Homo sapiens: one gene and its partners. The protein of the gene in region 1 binds, or shares a complex with, the protein of each later gene. Each region holds a gene or a part of one and is shown in the gene's direction. Other genes may lie near its edges. The genes, in order: PHF10, SMARCA2 and SMARCA4.

The links.
Region 2: PHF10 (region 1) and SMARCA2 share a complex: the UniProt entries of both Homo sapiens proteins name them as parts of the neural progenitors-specific chromatin remodeling complex.
Region 3: PHF10 (region 1) and SMARCA4 share a complex: the UniProt entries of both Homo sapiens proteins name them as parts of the neural progenitors-specific chromatin remodeling complex.

The regions. Positions count from the first base shown.
Region 1 is NC_000006.12:169,721,417-169,728,632, reverse strand, and holds the start of PHF10 (PHD finger protein 10), read left to right. Parts: upstream 1-4,132; 5' UTR 4,133-4,701; coding exon 4,702-4,788; intron 4,789-7,216. UniProt on the Homo sapiens protein: Involved in transcription activity regulation by chromatin remodeling. Belongs to the neural progenitors-specific chromatin remodeling complex (npBAF complex) and is required for the proliferation of neural progenitors.
Region 2 is NC_000009.12:2,053,324-2,060,430, forward strand, and holds part of SMARCA2 (SWI/SNF-related matrix-associated actin-dependent regulator of chromatin subfamily A member 2), read left to right. Parts: intron 1-1,273; coding exon 1,274-1,400; intron 1,401-3,348; coding exon 3,349-3,522; intron 3,523-4,967; coding exon 4,968-5,141; intron 5,142-7,107. UniProt on the Homo sapiens protein: ATPase involved in transcriptional activation and repression of select genes by chromatin remodeling (alteration of DNA-nucleosome topology).
Region 3 is NC_000019.10:11,054,969-11,062,075, forward strand, and holds part of SMARCA4 (SWI/SNF-related matrix-associated actin-dependent regulator of chromatin subfamily A member 4), read left to right. Parts: intron 1-3,286; coding exon 3,287-3,395; intron 3,396-3,819; coding exon 3,820-3,921; intron 3,922-4,784; coding exon 4,785-4,917; intron 4,918-5,076; coding exon 5,077-5,219; intron 5,220-6,815; coding exon 6,816-6,848; 3' UTR 6,849-7,107. UniProt on the Homo sapiens protein: ATPase involved in transcriptional activation and repression of select genes by chromatin remodeling (alteration of DNA-nucleosome topology).

The DNA.
Region 1 (7,216 bases):
ACAGAGTTTTTGATGTTTCAACAAAAGTTCTTAAGTGTCACAGAACAATTTTAATTTTTCTCTTTGATTATTAAGATCACTTTGCACAATTTCAACTTCCATGGTCATTTTTCTAGTCATGTTCTACCATGCCAAGCTAGGACTGGCTGTATGCTTTCTAATTCCTTAACCAACTCACATTCAGTTGCCTTTTACCCCTCTAGACTTTGCTGTCGCCAATATTAGTATGACTTCTGAAATCTTTATTTCAAGCAAGTTATTCTCATGCAATCATTTCCTGTCCTTCCAGCTCACCACCTCTAGTACCCCGAAGACAGCCATTCTCTAATCTTATTGAAATCTCCAGTTCATTGGCTTTTTTCACCATTTATAGCCCTCAAATTTCCTACCTTGTCCAGCTTAGATATCATGGCTCATCATTATAATCACTCCTTTACAAACAGACTTCAATTTCTTTGTCCCTCTTCCTCACCTGGAAAACCCCTTCCTGAATGAACCCCATTATCCACTTTGTCCAAGCCTGAATCCAAGTAGGTAAACTTGACTGAGAACCTGACAAAGCCAGACCGAGTAGTTTCACTTTAAATTCATGACCATAACTCTCAAGAAGGCAAAACACTTGGCATCCTGGAAACTTTGCTTTCCTGCTGACACACCTCCTTCTTCCTCAGATCTTCTGTATCTCTCTCCCCTACACAACTGTCAGCTGATTTTCCCTTTATATTTCATGAAGGAAAGAAAATATATCAGAAATAAAAATCCTTCAAGTTGGCTGGGTGCAGTGGCTCACGCCTGTAATCCCAGCACTTTGGGAGGCCGAGGCAGGCAGATCATGAGGTCAGGAGATCGAGACCATCCTGGCTAACATGGTGAAACTCCGTCTCTACTAAAAATACAAAAAATTAGCCAGGTGTGGTAGCGGGCACCTGTAGTCCCAGCTACTTGGGAGGCTGAGGCAGGAGAATGGCGTGAACCCAGGAGGTGGAGCTTGCAGTGAGCCGAGATCAGGCCACTGCACTCCAACCTGGGCAACAGAGTGAGTCTCTGTCTCAAAAAAAAACAAAAAAACAAAAAAACAAACCTTCAAGTTTTCCACTCACCTGCTTGCAGCTGCGACCACCTTCTGTCTTTCCTGTTAAATTGGGTGGATTCTGCTTCCTGTCTAATACCTGTGCTCTGGAGCCCATTTTTCCTTGCCTTCTCACAAGCTGCCTTCCAGTAGCATTTCCTCTCTCTGCTCAATCATGGTTTTCTGCCTTCCTACTCAGTCATTCTTTTCAGTATACCAACATGTGCTAATGTCTTCCATCTTAAAAACATCCCTACCACCTCTCCAGATACTCTCTTTCTCCATTACTTTTTATAATAAAACTACACAGAAGAGTTGTCTATACTCTGGCTCCAATTCCTAGGCTTCCATTCCTCCCTTAATCTGCTTTAATTTAGTTTCTGAAACCACCACTTTGCTGAAATAGCTTGAAACAGTCAAGACAGTTAATTACCTCCAGGTTGATAAATACAATGTATTCTTCTCTGCCACCTTACTAACTTCTCCATTAGGAGAGCTGACCAGTCCCTCTTTTAAAACACTCTCTCCTTTCAGTTTACAGTACTTTACACTTAGTTTTCTTTTTTTTCCTTCTCTATCTTACTTCCACAAGTTGAGTACCTTTGGACTTCTTGGTCTTGGGCCTTATTTTCACGTATATCTGCATAATCTAAGTGGTCTCATACGGTTTCATGCTTTTTTCCCCCTTATCAGTATTTCCAGGGCCTAACTCAGGGTGTAACTTAGTAAACAGTAAGGCATTCATTTGATGAATGAATGAATAAATGGTTTTTTTATATCTTCATCATTTAACATAGTTCTTAGTTAATACTTGGCTTGCCATAAAATATTTGTGGAATAATTGGACATTATTGTTATCATACAAATGAGGAAATGGAGGGTCAGAGAGATTAACTAATTTACCTTTGATCACACAGCTAATAAGAGGCACAGCTGGGATTTAAACCAAAGTCTTAACTTGAAATCTTTGTTCTCTCCATTACATCATAGTACCTCCCTACATATTTCATCCTTAACTCCTAGAATCCATCTTCATTTATCTCATTCTTATGCCAAACTGGAACGATTGATGTACCTGAATATGTCTATTTTCCCACCCCTCAGCCTGTTTGGGGCTTGAAACCCAATTTCTACTTCCATTGCACATCTACCTGTGTCTTTCTTACCTGTCTTTAAAGCAGTTTTCAAATTCTAGGTCAACCTTGAAACCTCCATTTTTTTTAGTTGGTAGTAAACTCCATTTTTTTTTTTAGTTGCTAGTTGTTTTCCCACCTAAGCTGCCTTAAAGTACAATTATATATTCGTACCATATTGTATTAGTGTTGAAGCTGCCTATAGGCAGGGATCTAATCTATACAGTGTCTCCTTAATATTCTTCTTTGCCTTGCACATTGGAAGACTGAATCAGTTATTTGTTGACTCCAGAATAAATTTGCATTTGATCTTGTCAACCTAAATAACAGACAGGTTTGCCAAACATGACAAATTTATTTGAAAGTGGGCATTGCAATGTAGAATATGGTGTCATAGTAAACTATAGGTGTATTCAGGGAGGTAAAGGAAGATAAGGGGTTTAAAAGGAAAAACGAGGAGGATTACGTAAGTTGTTTTGAAACAATTATCCTTGGCTACAAAGATCAGTAACAAAGGGGATGGCCAGTCCAAGGTTGGACAGGCAGTTGCTGCGCAAATGTCCTTGAAGCATTTTTTTGTGTAGTTTTGTGGCCTTTGTGCAAGGTTGTGGTTTTGGCAGTCTTTTGTGCTAATTCTTTATATCAGGCAATTATTAGTGAGAACTTTCCCATCACGGCTTTCCCTGACTCCATTCTCTGACAGCTTTCACAATCTAGAGACAGAATCCCGGAGGGAGAGGAGTACCAAATAGCTTAAGAGTTTTTTTTTGTTTTTGTTTTTTTTCTTAAAAAAAAAACCGCTAAACTCTACCCTGATCAGTGAAAAGAATTTAGCTGAAAGATGCAGTTTCTTCTTGGCAGATTCAGACAAGAAGTGCGGCGGAAGCTTACACCTGCACGTGGTGGGACAGAGGCAAGAACGGATGGTCTGGCTGAGGCTGAGAGAACCAAGCTGGATTAGGATCGGCTTGAGGGCCCGGCGTCGTCAGTGGTGACCTCTCTGACCTGAGGCAAGTGAGTCAGGCTGGACTGAGCGTGTTAACGTCGGTGTTTGTCAATGTGACGCGCTAGAATAATCCCTTTATCTTTCCCAACTTTTGTTTGTTGAGTGTAGGCAACTATAATGAATGGAAAGGAAACCGGATTGTACTTTAAATCCGAGAACATTCTCTACTCTCCAGAACAAGTCATCTGCAGGCGCAGGCAGTGGAATCCGTGAGGCCAGCTGTACGGCGGGCCGCCCCGGACCCAGGCTTGGCTCCTCACTTTCCGCTGTTTTTAGTGCGGTCCTACAAGTGCCCTGGTGCAGCCCGAGATCAGTAATAAATGCAGCTGAAATACACCGGCTCCCACGTTCTCGCGGGGGTACCTGCCAGGCCGGCGTCCACGCTCCTCCCCGGCTCCCGGCCGACCGCGTTCTCGGCGGAGGCATCAACCACGCGGGCACGCAAAGCCACGAGGGCCGAATCTCAGCGACTTCTTCCCGCTGTGCCTCCCGCACGCTCCGGGGCGGGCGCCGACAGCCCCCGGGTGCAGCTGCGGATGCTCGGGGAAGCGTGGCCTGGGCAGGTGGCTCCGCTGCTCTCTCGGAGCGCCACCAGCGAGAGGGGCGACCCGAGAACAAAGGCGGGAGAGGAGCGGCGACCGCGAGCGCGTAGAGGCGGAGGCCGCGCAGTCTCCGCGCGACTGCTCCGGGCAGGGCGACCCCCGGCAGAGAGGGGGCGGGGCGGGGACCCCCGGGAGGGGCGGGGAGGGGCGCGGCGGGGGCGCGGAGAGAGGGAGGGAACGAGGGTGACGCGCGGAGGGGCCGGGCCGGGGGCCGCGGGGAGGGGGCGGCTGCGAGCGCGCCAAGTGGCGACGTGCCGGGCCGGGGCGGGCCGGAGGGCGGGCGGGAGGTGGGGCGCGCCGGGGGCTGGGGGGAGCCGCGGCCGAGTACAACGCCGGGCCGTGGGGAGCCAGGCGGCGGCGGGGCTGAGGCGGCCGCGGGGCTGAGGGGAGCGGCGGGGCTGAGGCGAGCGGCGGGGCTGAGGCGAGCGGCGGGGCTGAGGCGGCCGCGGGGCTGAGGCGAGCGAGCGGCGGGGCTGAGGCGAGCGAGTGGCGGGGCTGAAGGGAGTCGCGGCGGCGCTGAGGCCAGCGGCGGAGCTGTGGGGGGCAACGGTGCTGAGGCGGTGGCCGCGGCCGGGCGGGTTGGGCTGACGTGAGAAGCGCCGCCGCCGCTGGGCCTCCTCCATTCCGGCCCGCAGCCCCGCGCCCTCCCAGCCTTTGGCGCCCTCCCGCGCGGGCGGCGCGCTGGCGACGGCCATGGCGGTGGCGGCGGCGCTGGCGGGCCGCGGGGCGCGCGGCGGCAGGGGCCGGCCCCCGGGCGGGCGGGCGGAGGGGGCGGGGCCGGGGCGGCGGGGGGCCCGCGCGGCGGCGGCGGCGGCGGCGGCGGCAGCGGCGGCGGCGGCCGGGACAAGGCGGAGGCGACGGCGGCGGCGGCGGCGCGGGGCGCTCGGGCTGATGGCGGCGGCGGCCGGGCCCGGGGCTGCGCTGTCCCCGCGGCCGTGCGACAGCGACCCAGCCACCCCCGGAGCGCAGTCCCCGAAGGTGAGGAAGCGGCCGGTGCGACCCGACCCTGACCCCGTCCCGGGCCTGGGTGCCGGGGCGTGGGCCCAGTCCCACCGGCGGCCGCCCAGCGTCTCGGGGGCGTGGGCCCAGGCCGGGCGCCGCGCCTGAGACCGGGGGTGGTCGGCGAGGCGGGGCCCCGAGGTGAGCCCGCGGCCTCTAGCGAGCAACAAGTGCGGGCGGGCGGGGGACGCGGCGCGGCTTCCCCGAAGTTGGCAGCCGGCCCTGCTTGACAAGCTTGTCCCCAAAACGCCTCCTCCTAGGCCAGCCGTGGGACGGAACGCGCCCGGGGCCGAGAGAGTTGGCCTCGGAGGGGCCTGCAGAAGCGCGCGTTCGCTCAGCGTTCATTCCGCGCATAGTTTGCCGAAGTGTTTGAACGCTTACTGCAAAAACCGAGTGGCGAACGATATGGAAAATCAACACACTCAGTGAACTTACTGTAATAACTAAGTTAATACGCAAGCGTCCGGATGTTTTCAGCGGAAGTCTGTTAAAACTTTTTACTGCTTGAGGAGGTGAAAAGAAATTGGTGCTTGTGGAGAAAATGGAGATGAGCAGTAGTGTCACGCATCAAAACGTTTTGGTTCTAAAGTTAGGCTAGCAGTTTGTGACAGAAAGTTGGAAGGGAGGAATGATGTTTTAAAAGCCTGGAAGCTTGAAATTGGATTGAAATTAGAAGGCGGTGGGAACTGGAATGCTGCAGAGCCAGCCAGCCTTCGTGCGGTGCGCGGTGTGCCGTGTGCGCGTTGGCAGGGGAAGCCGTCCTGTAGCAGCCTAGCCGGGCTGCGCCTGCTTGGGAGCTTTTCCCGTTGCGCACGTCCACCGTGCTGTGAGACTCATTTTGAAGGTTCCTCAAAGGCTGTCGTCAATGGAAGTAACTAGATTGTAAGACTCTGAATGCACATCCTTGCACTTCCAGCATTTGACGTCTGGCCCGGCACCTGGAGGGCACTGAGCCAGTGCCCCCTGAGTGCATTCTTGACCCCTGAGCCCTAGGAAGGATGTGATGCATAGAAATTCATCTGATCTGTAGTTGGAAACCACCTGTAACTCTGGAAGGCACATCTCTGATTTAGTATGTTTGGGAGTCTTTGAAAACATGGGCCTCTGTATCAGTATTGCGGTTACACGGAAATTCTTACCTTATTCCGTCATGTATTGGGAACAATATTGCTGTTACTACCTCCCTCAAGAAAAAGGCCCGCTGCCCAGATGCTCACTTTATATAATAATGCCTTTGCCTAGAATTTGTAGTAGTAATTTAAAACACTTGATGAAATTGTAGTCTCAGCTTTTTTGAGCACTTTGCATTTTTAACTTTATTTTTGTATATTTTTGAGTGTCTCAACTTTTTAGCTAAAGGAAAATGTTTTTAAGTTTAAGGATATAAAAATCCTTAAAATGCTCACCAGTAAAATAGAAAAAATACTGGAATGTTTAAAATGAGTTATGTTGAAAGTATTGAATATGCAGTGTTGCAGTTGTATGCAGATACTTATGCAAATTTTCAGAGAGTAGATTTAGACTATGCAAAGCTCTTTAATGAAATGCTTATTTTATAAGGACTGAAAAAGAATATATATTTTACTATTTGGAAAAGAACCAGTTAATTCCTAGGAGCTAGAGACATTTGAGACTTTATTATCATCATAATCATCATTTTAACTAATATTTATCAGATAACTCGCCAGTCCTTGTTCTAAGTACTTTTAATATAGTAGCTCGTTTAATCATTGAATTAGCCATGTAATGGGGCACTATTATAGTCTCAAATTTTCGGATAAGGAGATGCTCACAGAGAATAACCTACTCAGCTAGTGAGGGACAGTGCCCAGTGAGAACCCAGGCCGTCCAGCTCTGGCATGCCTGGCCACTATACCATATTGCCTCTTTATATTCTTTTGCAGGATTGCTTTCATTTTAATATGTAGCAAGAGGACTATAGTATTTAGCAAAATTGGATTAGCGTTGAAAGCTATATTACATTAAAAAATTATGATTTTTAGACTTTAAGCCTTGGCTAATAAGTAAATAAATCAATTTCCTAACATCTGATACTTTTTCTGAATGAAATGGTTGAATTTATAACCTTGATGTTCTTGCCACATAATGGATTACATTAAAAATATATAATCTTCTTTAAAAAAAAAATTCCCCTCCCCCTCTCAAGCTTCTTTTTTTGGTGTGTGTGCTGCTATATTATAGATTGATGACCCTTATTAGGGTATATTTTTGCTAAATTTTAGCAGTGTAAGAGGAAGAGTGAATAGTTAGAATTGTTTTCGGTCTCATATGTCCCCTTTTCACAGGGACATAAATGCCTAAAGTAGTCAATTAAAATAGTCCTATGAACCGGCTTCAAGTTGAATTGAGAACTGTAAATGATCCATACATTTTTTTCCCCCTGAGC
Region 2 (7,107 bases), on another chromosome or scaffold:
TGCATAATTTTTAACAGAATTCTTAATTTTCAGCTTTTATAGTTGAGGTCCAGGAAGGTTCTCGGAAAGTGTATCTTAATTATCTATCATTTTATTGCAGTGGTTTTGGTATCAGGCAAATTGAGGTTCCAATCTTGGCCCCCTTCTTTACTAGCTCTGTGGTATCTCCAGGTGTCTTCAGTTTTCCTCATCAGCAAAATGGGACCATTATAACTTTTACCTTACAGAGGCGTGTCTGTGTGTGTAAGAGAGAGACAATTAAATAACATTGTACATTAAAGGCACTTAGTGCTGTTAATATTAGCCTACTTTAACTTATTACTTATTATTATTCTTTCTTTGTTGAAATCTAGTTCAGTACAGTTTGCCTCAGATTTAGGGGATGTAGTTCTAAAAATAGTCTTAAATGGCATATAATTATTTTGTCAGAATAGGATTCAGGTGAACTCTAAAACCAGCAGTTTATATATCTAACAGTAATAGTATCCCAAGTGAATGGCTAAAGTCAGAGGTCTTTTATTTTCTACTCTGCCTTTATTATGAAGAAGTACATGCAGTTATATTTTTGATGGTGTGTAAAACGAGAATCCTCAACATCCTTTTCTAGAAACTCTTGGTTTTTGAGTACTATTTACTGCTGGCCCTGATTTTTTTAAAACAGCCTCATTTGTATTTTCTTTTCTCAAGCAAGCTCTGCTCACAGAGGAAGTGGTTGTGGCTGGCAGAGCGCTTTCTGAATGTTTAGGGTTGGCTGATTTCTGTGGCATCAGCACCTAAAACTGTTCTTGCTCACTGCGCTTTAATGGCTGTCGTCATCAGCATCTTGGCAAAGAAGACAAATGGTCTGGTTGCCTTAGGACAGAACTAGAAGTTCGGAAGAAAAAAGTCTGTGCTCTCAGCTCTGCATTCTGTCTGGCTGGGAGTTAGAAAGCTTGTCAATTGGTTCTGTCTCTTATATTCTCTCTCTGCTAAGAGTGAGCAAGGACATTTGACTTCCCCACTAGATGCAGGGTGAACCTTCTTTCCCTAGTGTTAGATAGAGGTTATGGAGGAAGCCACATTGTTAAGTAACATATACCTGTCTGCATTAATGCAAAGGTAGCTTTTCTCTGCTTAACATCAAAAATTCTAGTTGGGTGTTAGAGATCAACTATCAGTATCTGGAATATGTTTTGCCCCGGACTTAAACCTAATGTCATTGTTTATCATTTAAGATTAAATTGTAATGTGTTTTTCCCCTGCCCCCTTTTCCCCATTTTATTGTTTCCTTTAGACTTCAGGCCCGCATAGCTCATAGGATACAAGAACTGGAAAATCTGCCTGGCTCTTTGCCACCAGATTTAAGAACCAAAGCAACCGTGGAACTAAAAGCACTTCGGTTACTCAATTTCCAGCGTCAGGTAATACATTTTCCCCAGTGAATCTGAGATGTAGGAAATAAATGTAATTGTTCCTAAAGTGTTATCTGTGTTGCCTTTAGTCTATTCAATATTGTTACAAAGATATAAAGATATAAATATAGTAAAATAGTGAATCTTTTAGACCAACAGCTTACAACTAAAAATGATGAAGATGAACTGCTTATTATTCTGGTTTTCTCTTCTGTATATGGGAAAGAGTTTTTCCTCCTGTACTATGGGTTACAAAGTCAGAGTTATGGCGTTTTGTTACCATGGATGAAAAACCTTGGGAACAAGTGGGGTAGCTCATGTTTGCTTTTATGACTCCAAGGAAAAACCAGAAGGTAGTGGATTGGAGCTTCTTTGTAAGCACAGATGTAAAGTGCTTGCCACGACTGTGAAAATAATTTTAACAAATATGGTAGCCACGCTACTGAATTAGTGGTTCATCATTTATAGAAATACATAAAGCAATGTCTTATAGCTTATTTATTCACCGATGTCTAAGTTTGGAGTGTTTGATCACATCAGGCTCATGTATTGACTAATCAGTAAATTATCTGCTCTTGTAGTTTACAGCAGTTATTAAAAGCCAGTATAATGACCTATTTTCTGATTTCTAAATTAGTAAGAGACAAGTGGAATGAGTTAGAGCTAATTTTCACTTTGGCGAGTTTTGCCTTGTGGACTGAAAAGGTTCAAGTTTGCTAGTCCGCAGATTGCCTCACTAACCCAAAGGGGATAAGGAACGTTTCATTGTTAGTCAGATGGGTTTGTTTTGTTAAAGTCTGGAACATGCGAAATGAATAATTAATGAGTCAAAGTAGTTTGGAAGTATTGACTTGGTTTGTTGGAGGATGTGACTAAAATCACAGGCCACTCCAGTTGCTATTGTGGTAGGAATTTGGGTGTATATTTGCCTTACCGGCTATAATCTCACAGATGGACATTAGTGGTGGGTAGGTGCTACTTGGCTCTTGGTTTGTGAGAGTAGATTTCAGCTTAAATTTTAAAAAGAAAAGGGAAAATTCTCTGAGTTCTGTTTACTTCTTTCTTATTGGTGACCTCATAAGATGAATTAATAAAGTGCTGGATAAAATCTTACTAAATGAATATTAACCAAGTATATTTTCCGGAATATGTTTATGTTCAAATTAGCGTTGCCATGACGGACTCTTATTGATTTCTGATTTTTGTTTGATATTATTTTAAAAATCTGTTATTTATGAAGCTTCCTAATTAAATTAACTGTAACTAATGATATTTCAGATGCAGTGGAATGATTATTTAATGTGTATTCTCCAGTCCCTACCCCCTACCACCACATAACATGCAATACAGATAAAAGTATTACATTTGTGATCTGAAATAAGTTCATGATATAATATAAAATGTAGATCTCTTGGAAAGAAGATCATTATTGGAGTGGGAAGAAGCCAAAACTCATATTTCCCATCCTTTGTATGAGACTATGAATTAACGTTGTTTGAGTACCTGCTGCTACCACACGTGAAAGTAATTCTTTTATTCTTTTTTTGGAGCATCATTAAAATTAATCTTTAAACACAAAGAGAATGTTAACATGACACTTAAAACAAAGCGGAAAATTTAAAAAGCTTATTTAGCTAATTGGTATCATTAGAATAATTAGAGAAAATGAAGTTATTTAAAAGGCAAGACAACATCTTTTCTTTCTTTTACTGTTACAGTACTATAATTGCTTTTGATTTGAATTATTTGGGGAGAAAAATCTTGTACCGTTCTTGAAAATATTGCATACATTTGGCATGATTTTAGTTCCTTCATTTAATACAAACCAAAGGTGATTGAGAAGCTTGTGGAGATTCCCCGCCCCACTCTATTCCATTAAATGCAACCGCGAGAAGGCCAGAGTTCAGGAACCTAGCTTCTGTTAGGGAAGGCTGTCTAACTGCTCTCTTCTTGACAGCTGAGACAGGAGGTGGTGGCCTGCATGCGCAGGGACACGACCCTGGAGACGGCTCTCAACTCCAAAGCATACAAACGGAGCAAGCGCCAGACTCTGAGAGAAGCTCGCATGACCGAGAAGCTGGAGAAGCAGCAGAAGATTGAGCAGGAGAGGAAACGCCGTCAGAAACACCAGGTTCTTAGACCCTGGGCTTTGCTCACCCTCACTTTGGCAGAGCTGTCCAATGAATTCATCAAATGGGGTCAGAATGACTGAAAAATGGACCCTTGTGGGTGGTGGGGACATCACAGAACAGAACGGTTCCTTGACATGTACATAATCCAACCACATCATTTTATAGACAAAGACGCTTAAGCCAGGACGTATAAATGACTGCCCAAGGTCATACAATTGCTTAGCAGCACAATGAGGTTTAGTATTGTCTTAGTTTGTCTGGGCTGCTATAAAAAAATAGCACAAACTGGGTGGTTGATGAGCAACAGAAGTTTATTTTTCACCGTTCTGGAGGCTGGAAGCCTGAGATCAGGGTACTAGCATGGCTGGGCTCTGGTGAGGGTCTTCTTCTGGGTTGCAAACTGTTAACTTCTCCTTGTTTTCTTACGTGGTGGAAGCAGGCCAAGAAAGCTCTCCGGGCTTCCTTTATAAGGGCACTAATCCCATTCGTAAGGGCTCTACCCTCATGACCTTATCACCTCCCGAAGACCCCACCTCCTAATACCATTACATTGGGAGTTAGCATTTCAATATATAAATTTTGGGAGGACACAAACATTCAGTCCATAACAGGTGTCATGTTCATAATCCCATGGGAAGTTTTTGAATGGGTGGGCATAGGTGGATTTCCTAGAGCAAAATTCTGGGAGCAGGAACTTGGAAAAGGAAAGTAGAAAGCAAAAAGTTATTTTCATAACAAATATAATAGTGTCCTGGCTTCTCTGAAGGGCCTAGTTGAATGTTTCACAGAGGCAAATATTAAAAACATTCCTTTCTGGGGGTTTGGAAATATTTTGATGTAGGATTTGATTTCCTGTCATAGTCCTGTAAATTGTATTTGTTTTCCTGTGCTTAATTTAGTGCTTAGCTTAGTTTCCTTTTGAAAAAATGTTGGATTTTAGTGTAAATAGAGTATATATTTAAAAAGTGGATACAAATTCTGCATGGCAATTTTAACTTTGTATAAACTTATTTTGTGTCATACTCTAGGGTAGTTAGAGCAGAAAAACATTACTTTTGTGACATACTTTTTGCTGGAAATACTCATGTTCCTCAGGTTTATTTTGGAGTGAATGAGTGGTTTGCTTTACATTTTATCATTGCCATTTTGTAGGTCTCTTTCAGTCTTCGATCTTTCCATTCTCATGTGGCCACACCCTCAAGGCTAAGGAGGCTTCTCTTGCTAAAGCTTACAACAAAAGGAACCCGAAGAGGCTATCTTTCCCACCAGCCCCATGGCCCACACCTTAACTGCAGAGACACCAGGGCACCTATCCCCAAACAGATTCTAGTCTTCCTATGCTGTTAAACACACACTGAGAGTTTTCTTGGACAACACTGATAGCTCAGAGGACACTGGTCATTGGATTTTAAGTATCCTTTTCTTCCCTTTTTGGATCTTCTAGGAATACCTGAACAGTATTTTGCAACATGCAAAAGATTTTAAGGAATATCATCGGTCTGTGGCCGGAAAGATCCAGAAGCTCTCCAAAGCAGTGGCAACTTGGCATGCCAACACTGAAAGAGAGCAGAAGAAGGAGACAGAGCGGATTGAAAAGGAGAGAATGCGGCGACTGATGGTAAGGAACTCCCTGCAGGAGCCCAGGAAACTACTCAACCCACGTCCGTCTGCAATGAGACCATTAAATATGGTGGTAGTAGAAGGAAAAAATGAAAACTGCTTATCAAAAATTTTAGTAAATTTCTTTGAACCTTAGGGAGATGAAGTAAAAACTTTTTCTCTTTCCTGGAGAATGCATGCCAAAAATCTAGGGGGATGACTGATGCGTATAGTATTTCTGTGTCCTGGGGTGGCATTGCGCGGTACACATTACAGCTTCTCTCATAAAAGCAGGTACTGTATTTTGCATGAGTTTGATAACCAGATCTGGAAGGATGGCAAATGCAGTTCTTTTAAAAATATGGCCTCTTTGAGATGAATGACCACGTTTTTTGGAATGAATAACACATTAAGTCGTGTCTTCAAATCTAAGAAGGTCTGTGTTTTGAAGCCTCTGGTGCTTATCTTTCTTTTTTAATGGCAGAAATTATTCTCTAACAGTGTAATAAGTGATTTTTAAGTTGATTTTGAAATGTTGCCTTTTTTGTGATAGCCTTGTTATGGTCAAAGGCTATTCATGGATTATTACATTTGCACTGTTATTTTTTAATGGGCATATAAGCACAGAAGAGATAGGTTTATATCATTGGCCTGAGTATTTGTTTTTATTGACCATTTATTTTTGGAATTGGACCTCAGAGCACACTGTGGATTTTAGAAAAGCGTGTGTGTGTGTGATGTTATAATTATAGGAGACCTGCAGATTCTATCTAGGACGTAATGCCTGCATAGATGAAGATAAGGTCATTAGTCTCAGACCATAATTATGTTCCTGGAAAATTCTAAGTGACACTGTCTTCCTGGCTGGTATTACAGTTTGCATTTTTTTCATTTTTTGGATTCCAGAGAGTAAACACCATGTTTTAAAAGCCTCTGTGTGCAGGTACTACTACATCTTACTACCCTATCCTGCCTCCCTCTCCATACCAGGGAGAGAGGACTGTCCGAGAGGTTTCTGACTAGACCGTTTTTGTAGTAATTTGATCACTAAGCAGTCAAATTTGTCTGACTCAACTGAAGTGAAACTATATTAGAACTTCAGTAACAGATTGGTTTGACACTAATGATTAGGCATTTGCAAATCATTAATTTTTGCAATTAAGTGATGGAATATACAGATAATAGAGAAACTGAAGTTTTTTATCACTCTTTCTTCAAGTGAGTTCAACCATAACCGAAAGCAATTAGAGTTATAATAGCATTTGAGGCTCTTGCTCATCCACAGGGCAGACGGCAGCTAGACTGAGTGATGAAGCTGCTGTCACTCAGGCAGATGCTAGAGTGACACCCCTGGACAAAAGATCCCAAGTTTTTGTTTTTGTTTTTGCAATGGAGTTGCCTCTTAAAGATTTTGCAGCTTGCTCCTTTTATCGTGGCATTACATGATAAAAATAATTTGGAGTGTCCTTTTATTGGGATACACAAAGAGATTTCTCTCAAAATGGCTTAGAGTACATCAGAGTTTTATTCTGTTTAACCTCATCATGTTGCTTAATGGGAGGTGGAGGTGGGAATTACTGTATCTATTTTATTGCTCAGCAGTACCAGACTTCAGGTGCTAAGTGACTTGTCTCCAGTCACCTGGGCCCATTACTCAGTGCAGATCTGTGGCCAAAAAAAAAAAAAAAAAAAAAAAAAAAAAAAATCCCCCAAATTTGATCTTTCCTGTTAACCACAAAGTTTGTAATGCCAAAAAGAAAGACTTTTTAAAATATAAGACATTATTTGTTAAAAGCCCATTTGATTCCTTGCCTTTAGTAGTACTTTTTGAAATATTTATGAATGAAAGGATATTATGTCTGGAATTTGCTTCAAGACAATTCAGTTTGGGTTTAGAAGAAGAGTAGCAATGAAACAGGAGTCATCACAAGTGAATTTTTGTTGTTTGGGGTTGGTTATAGGAGAAATTAAACTATTCTCTCTGC
Region 3 (7,107 bases), on another chromosome or scaffold:
TTCCAAGTGCGGGGAGGCTGCAGCATGTCCCTCTTTAATATAGAGGTGAGGGAGGCTCTCAGCACCCTGCCTGTTGCAGGGAAGCCTGAGGACAGGACCTCCAGGGAACTCTGCACCAGAGCGGAATCCTCAGACCGGCAACTGGGTGGTCTTGATTCATCCAGAACGTAATTCTCCTAGAGGTCTGGGAAGGGGTGCTCTTGTACCTTGGTTTTGTGTTTTGTTTTTGTTTGTTTTTTGAGACAGAGTCTCACTCTGTCGCCCAGGCTAGAATGCAGTGGTGCGATCTCGGCTCACTGCAACCTCTGCCACCCAGGTTCAGGTGATTCTCCTGCCTCAGCCTCCCGAGTAGCTGGGATTGCAGGTGCCTGTCACCACGCCTGGCTCATTTTTGTATTTTTAGTAGAGACGGGGTATCACTATCTTGGCCAGGCTGGTCTTGAACTCCGGACTTCGTGATCCACCCACCTCAGCCTCCCAAAGTTCTGGGGTTACAGGCGTGAGCCACTGCGCCCAGCCGCACCTTGTTTTTTTTTTGCTGCCTGTAGCTGTTTCTCATTAGCCTGATGGAGGTGGCTGTTGGGGTGGTGGGGTGCTTATTATAAAGCCTTCTGCTGTCACAGCCCTGGGGTCTCACTTCCTGGGCTCTCTGCATAGGGAGCCGCCCTCCAGGGCAAGGGCCACAGTGTGCAGTAAGCCCCCCATGGCCACAGGGCAGGGCGTTTCAAGCCAAGAGTCTGCACTGTTTGCTGGCCACTAAGGGCATTGAATGGATCACAAAACTGGCTTTTTTTTCCCCCAGTCAAATAGAAATGGGGTTTTGCCATGTTGTCCAGGCTGGTCTCAAACTCCTGGGCTCAAGCAATCCTCCCACGTTGGCCTCCCAAAGTGCTGGGATTACAGGCACGAGCCACCATATCTTTAAAAATGTAATAGAATGGAAAATGGCAAAGCGCGCTGCTTTTCATAGAAGAGACTATCGCATTGGGGTTCTTCTGTTGCCCCTGCCTGTGCTGCACGTCCTGCTTCACAGTGTAAAGCGCAACTCTTGCTGTGCCTTATTGTAACAGGTATAGGGTGGATGCTGCCATCATGAAGAGAGAGGAGAGCTCTTTGCTTATAAAATTCCGTAGAGTGGAGAACAGGATGTGCCGGCTTAGGAGAGGGAAGAGGTACAGGCCCGCTCTGCCCGAGCTGCAGATGGGACACACATTTCCCGACTCAGAGGGGAGTCGTGTCTTTCTCCAGGGTCACCGAGCAGCAAGCGCATCCACTGTGTGTTCTTATTTTCTGAGCCTGTGGACTGGGTTTACCAACAGTTGCCTGTGGCAGAGCCGGCCACCAGCCCGCTCATAGGAAAAAGGAAGCCTGTGCCTCCAGGGAGGGCCCACGATGGGAATGCAGTCTGAGAAGGGTATGTGCTCCCATGCTGGACCGGCTGGTCCCACACCCAGGACCAAAAACACCTCCTGGCAGGAGATGGGGAGATGTACTTCATGAACACACGTTGGGGAAGGACACTCCTGGAAGGCAGAGGCTCAAGGCGGGCTGTGTCCAGGCCAGGAGATTCACTCCCACCTCAATTTCCTCCTCAGCACGGCTGGCCTGGCACTGGTGCCTGCTTCAGAGTTTAGTGTGTGTAAAGTGTGGCTGGCCCAGCAAGCAGGGGATGATGGCGGTTGTCAAGGCCAGGGGAGGTGCAGGGACAGGATTCTGGCTCCCGTGTGTAACGTCTGCATCTCAGGAGGCTCTCATGTTAGAAGCTGGGTCAGGGGCTTCGTGATGCACACAAACACCAAACAAGCAGGAGGCCTTCCGGGATCCTGCTCACGAGCAGCTTCCTGGAGGCAAGCCTGGCCCGTCTGCCCCTTGGTGACATCAGGACCCCAGCAACAGAACCAGGGAAGCCACCATGTTGTCGCTGCCATTTTCCAGCGTGGTAAACAGAAGCAAGACAAGGCGCACTCAGGACACCCAAACAGACGGCGGGGCCAGCCAGTGGCATGGGCGGGCTGCCCTGCCCTCTGGAATTTTCTGGGAAAGAACATAAGGAAAGAAGCGGTGCTGATGAGGCAGCTGGAGTTATCAGGACCCAAGCTCAGCTCCTCCTTCCCATCAGGCCCCGTTGGCCACTTTTAGGCTTCGTCCGCCTGGTGGCTCCCTGCTTGGGGCCGTTCCCTGGCTAGGCCCTTCCTCTGGGCCAAAGCAGAGAGGAGAGCGCGTTTGCCATGCGTTCTCATTTTCCCAGCCTGCGGGCTGGGTTCTGTCAGAGCAAGGTCAGCTCTCAGAGCTTCTGTCCCCACCCACCCTGTCCTGCTGAGCCAGGCTCAGGTATGGGTAAGAGCTGGGAGCGCTGTGCACGAGGCCTGGCAGCATCTCATCACTGCCGCTGTACCGAGTGCACAAGGGCGCTTCCTGTGGTGTTCAGGGGGTTAGATCAGTCCCCAGTGAGGACAGAGCAGAGATCCAGATGCATCCCAGGCCGGCTGCAGTGGCTTCTGCCTCTAATCCCAGCACTTCGGGAGGCCAAGGCAGGCAGATCACGAGGTCAAGAGATCGAGACCATCCTGACCAACATGGTGAAACCCTGTCTCTACTAAAAATACAAAAATTAGCCGGGTGTGGTGGCTGGCATCTGTAATCCCAGCTACTCGGGAGGCTGAGGCAGGAGAATTGCTTGAGCCCAGGAGGCAGAGGTTGCAGTGAGCCGAGATCATTCCATTGCGCTCCAGTCTGGCGACAGAACAAGACTCTGTCTCAAAAAAAACAAAAAACAAAAAAATGTATCACAGGCCTGTTTGTGTGGTTGTCTCTGGGAAATGTTCCAGAAGCTACAAGAAAGCACATGTGCAGGCCAGGCATGGTGGCTCACACCTGTAATCCCAGCACTTTGGGATGCTGAGGCGGGCTGATCACCTGAGGTCGGGAGTTTGAGACCAGTCTGACCAACATGGAGAAACCCTGTCTCTACTAAAAATACAAAATTAGCCTGGCATGGTGGTGCACGACTGTAAAAAATCCCAGTGACTCCAAAGGCTGAGGCAGGAGAATCTCCTGAACCTGGGAGGTGGAGGTTGCAGTGAGCCGAGATCGCACCATTGCACTCCAGCCTGGGCAGCAAGAGCGAAACTCCGTCTCAAAAAAAAAAAAAGCGCATGTGCAAGAAATAGCTCCTGAGCTGAGTTGGAATTTCTCATCCTTAAACAATGTGGGAACCTGCTGAGGTGGGGTGGGGGCTCCCGGGTGGGCGGACTCGGGGGTGATAGCCGCCGGTTCTGCCTTGCAGCAGCAGTGGACGTCAGCTCAGCGAGGTCTTCATCCAGCTGCCCTCGCGAAAGGAGCTGCCCGAGTACTACGAGCTCATCCGCAAGCCCGTGGACTTCAAGAAGATAAAGGTAACCCTGACGTTGTACCTGCGCCCCGCATGTGCCCGGAGGGGAGTCTGACCCAGGGGCACCCCCATCTGAGAGCTGTGGTGTGTGGGCAGAATGACCAGAAACCACCTAGGCGGTGCCTTGGGCTACCTGGTTAGGGACCTGGTCGTGGGCTTTTGGGGTTCCTTGTAAGGGTTGGGGGTGTCCTGAGGGATGTCAGTGGGCAGTCGGTGTTGGGTGTTCCTTCAAGGTCCCACTCACTTAGTGCTGGGCCTCAGTCATGCAGTTCCCATGCCTAGTGAGCCAGGTTACCGAGGCTGGCGCTTCGGCCACATCCTCATAGGCACGAGGAATCCTAGCCCGTGGGGTCTCCAGCACACAGCCAGGCCTGCGGGCAGGCGAGGCGGGGTCCTGAGGTAAGACCTGCTCCTCCCGTCCACTGCAGGAGCGCATTCGCAACCACAAGTACCGCAGCCTCAACGACCTAGAGAAGGACGTCATGCTCCTGTGCCAGAACGCACAGACCTTCAACCTGGAGGGCTCCCTGGTGAGGGCACCGCTGGGGGTTGGGGATGGGCCACTCCCACAGCTGGGCTTTGACCCAACCCGCCCCTCCTTCCCTTCTGAATTGATGGGTTAAAAACAAGTCCCGCTAGCTGTGGTGGTTCGTGCCTGTAATCCCAGCACTTTGGGAGGCCAAGGCGGGAGGATCACTTGAGACCAGGAGTTCACGACCAGCCTGGGCAACATAACAAGACCCTGTCTTTAAAAAAAAAAAAGAAAAAATTAAAAATTTCCAACTTGGGATATTTTAGCAATTACAAAAGCAGTATGTATTTACCGAAGAAAATAAAGATAGGCACAACAGAAGAAATAGACTCAGAGTCCTCTGTCTGTTGGAATTTTATTTTAAATTCCCTGGGGCACATTCTCTTCAAAGGAATCCTGTGGGTTTGTTCTTTCCTGTGATAGAATTGACACATACACAGCCTCAACTTGGCAAACTTTCTTAAGTGTCTTTGGGATTGATTCCTCTCAGAAAAAAGACTTGACTTTGATGAGTTTGGGAAAGATGCTGGCTTCAACAAGGGGCATGTATTTCCAATGTTATTGCAGACCTCAGAGATTGTGCAGAAGGAGGGAGGCACCTGCAGCTATTCCCAAACCAGTGTGCCTGACCTTTCACCCTGGAGCATTTCAGAAGTCTGATGCTCGGGCCCCTATGGAGGAAGATTATGGAGAGGGCCTTCCACCCTGGGTGGGCTGAAGCCCCGACCCGCTGAGGCTCGCATTGGCCACTGATCAGCTGTCCAGGGGCAACACAGGGCTGGGGCTGGGGCTGGGGCCAGGGCCGGGCAGGCAGCCCTCCAGTCGGGCCCATCCACTCAAGCCCCTGGTGTCTCTGCCCAGATCTATGAAGACTCCATCGTCTTGCAGTCGGTCTTCACCAGCGTGCGGCAGAAAATCGAGAAGGAGGATGACAGTGAAGGCGAGGAGAGTGAGGAGGAGGAAGAGGGCGAGGAGGAAGGCTCCGAATCCGAATGTGAGTCCCGGGGGGGTTCAGGACGCCGGGGTTCACGCTGGCCCGAGAGCCCCCAAGGCCCCAGCTTTTCACAGCCCTCCCGGCTCCCAGACGCCCCTTGCTGTGGGGGTGCTGCATTCCCAGAGCTCAAGGCTGTCTTTCCCTCCCGGTCCCCTCCAGCTCGGTCCGTCAAAGTGAAGATCAAGCTTGGCCGGAAGGAGAAGGCACAGGACCGGCTGAAGGGCGGCCGGCGGCGGCCGAGCCGAGGGTCCCGAGCCAAGCCGGTCGTGAGTGACGATGACAGTGAGGAGGAACAAGAGGAGGTGAGGCCGGGCCCCCGAGCAGGCAGAGCTGGCATGTGGCAGGAGGCATCCCGGGGCCCTGATGGGACAGCCCTGTGGGGCGGTGCTCCCACGCCCCCACGCTGCAGGTGGGAAAGCTGAGGCTTGACCTGCCATGGCTGACCCCAGGTCACACAGCCAGTATGTGGCAGGGCTGCCACTCAAAGCCAAGCCTGTGTGACCCCGGAACCAGCTCTCAGTACCCGTGGGTGTCTGGGGACTGGGGGACACGTGAGTCCTCAGGACAGGCAGCAGGCGGTCCCAGGGCACCAGGGCTCCTGGGCTGAGGCCGGGCAGGCCAGGGCTTGATTAGGGTTGGGTAGGAGGTGCTAGGATTGGGGACCCACCAGACAGTGCCCCGTCTCCTCAGTGGCATAGAGAATGGGCAGAAACGCCAAGACCACAGTGGATAGTTTTTGGGGTGCAGTGGGGAGCCGGAGAAGATCCACTTGCTGGCTTTAAATAATCTCACCTCTGTCTCTGGCCCTTCCTGGCTGTGGGACCTGGCAGGTCACTTTGCTTCTCAAGCTTCAGTTTCCTCTTATGCAAAGCAAGGAGGCTGCATGGATTAGGGGGCTGCCCCCACCGAAGGGCCTGGCTCCCGCTGAAGCCCAGCGAATGCCATTTTGTCATCACAGAAGCAGCAAATTTCAGTGCCTGGGAATTAGTCTGACGAAAGACGCACGTGACGTTTGAGGACATTCATGAAGTCCTCATGTGGAGGGGAGGCCCCTGTGTCAGGCAGGAGGGTCTGGGCTGTGATGCTGTCTCTCTTGCCTAATCCAGAGCAGGGTGTTTTATGGCCCATGCCAGGCTGTTTAAAAAGGTTTTATGAGGCCAGGTCCAGTGGCTCACACCTGTAATCCCAGCACTTTGGGAAACTGAGGCAGGAGGCTCACTTGAGCCTGGGAGGTCGAGGCTGCAGTGAGCCGTGATAGCACCACTGCACTCCAGCCTGGGCAACAGAGCAAGACCCTGTCTTTAAAAAAAAAAAAAAAAATATATATATATATATATATATATATATATATATATATGAAAGAGCAAAGATCTTTCACAGTCAGGAAGAACCAAGATGGTTTGGAAGCTGTAGGTCAGGGGCCAAGGGCCAGGCAGGTGACATGGGACAGAGCAGGGAAGGCACGTGGAGCCTCGAAGGTCCCGAGAGGGCCGAGTGTGGTCACAGGGACTCGTCCTGTAGAGAAACATGAAGTTTGGGCATGGCCATGGCGCCATCTCGGCTCACTGCAAGCTCCACCCCCCGGGATCGCGCCATTCTCCTGCCTCAGCCTCCCAAGTAGCTGGGACTACAGGCGCCCGCCACCACGCCCGGCTAATTTTTTGTATTTTTTAGTAGAGACGGGGTTTCACCGTGTTAGCCAGGATGGTCTCGATCTCCTGACCTCGTGATCCGCCCGCCTTGGCCTTCCAAAGTGCTGGGATTACGGGCGTGAGCCACCGTGCCCGGCCCACATCAGTGTTTTCTTGAGCAAGTTTATTTAAAGTTTGGCAGGTCCCTGGCAAGGTGCCCTGGCAGGGGTGGCCAACGCACACTCTCTCCTCCTGTCCCCTCTCCAGGACCGCTCAGGAAGTGGCAGCGAAGAAGACTGAGCCCCGACATTCCAGTCTCGACCCCGAGCCCCTCGTTCCAGAGCTGAGATGGCATAGGCCTTAGCAGTAACGGGTAGCAGCAGATGTAGTTTCAGACTTGGAGTAAAACTGTATAAACAAAAGAATCTTCCATATTTATACAGCAGAGAAGCTGTAGGACTGTTTGTGACTGGCCCTGTCCTGGCATCAGTAGCATCTGTAACAGCATTAACTGTCTTAAAGAGAGAGAGAGAGAATTCCGAATTGGGGAACACACGAT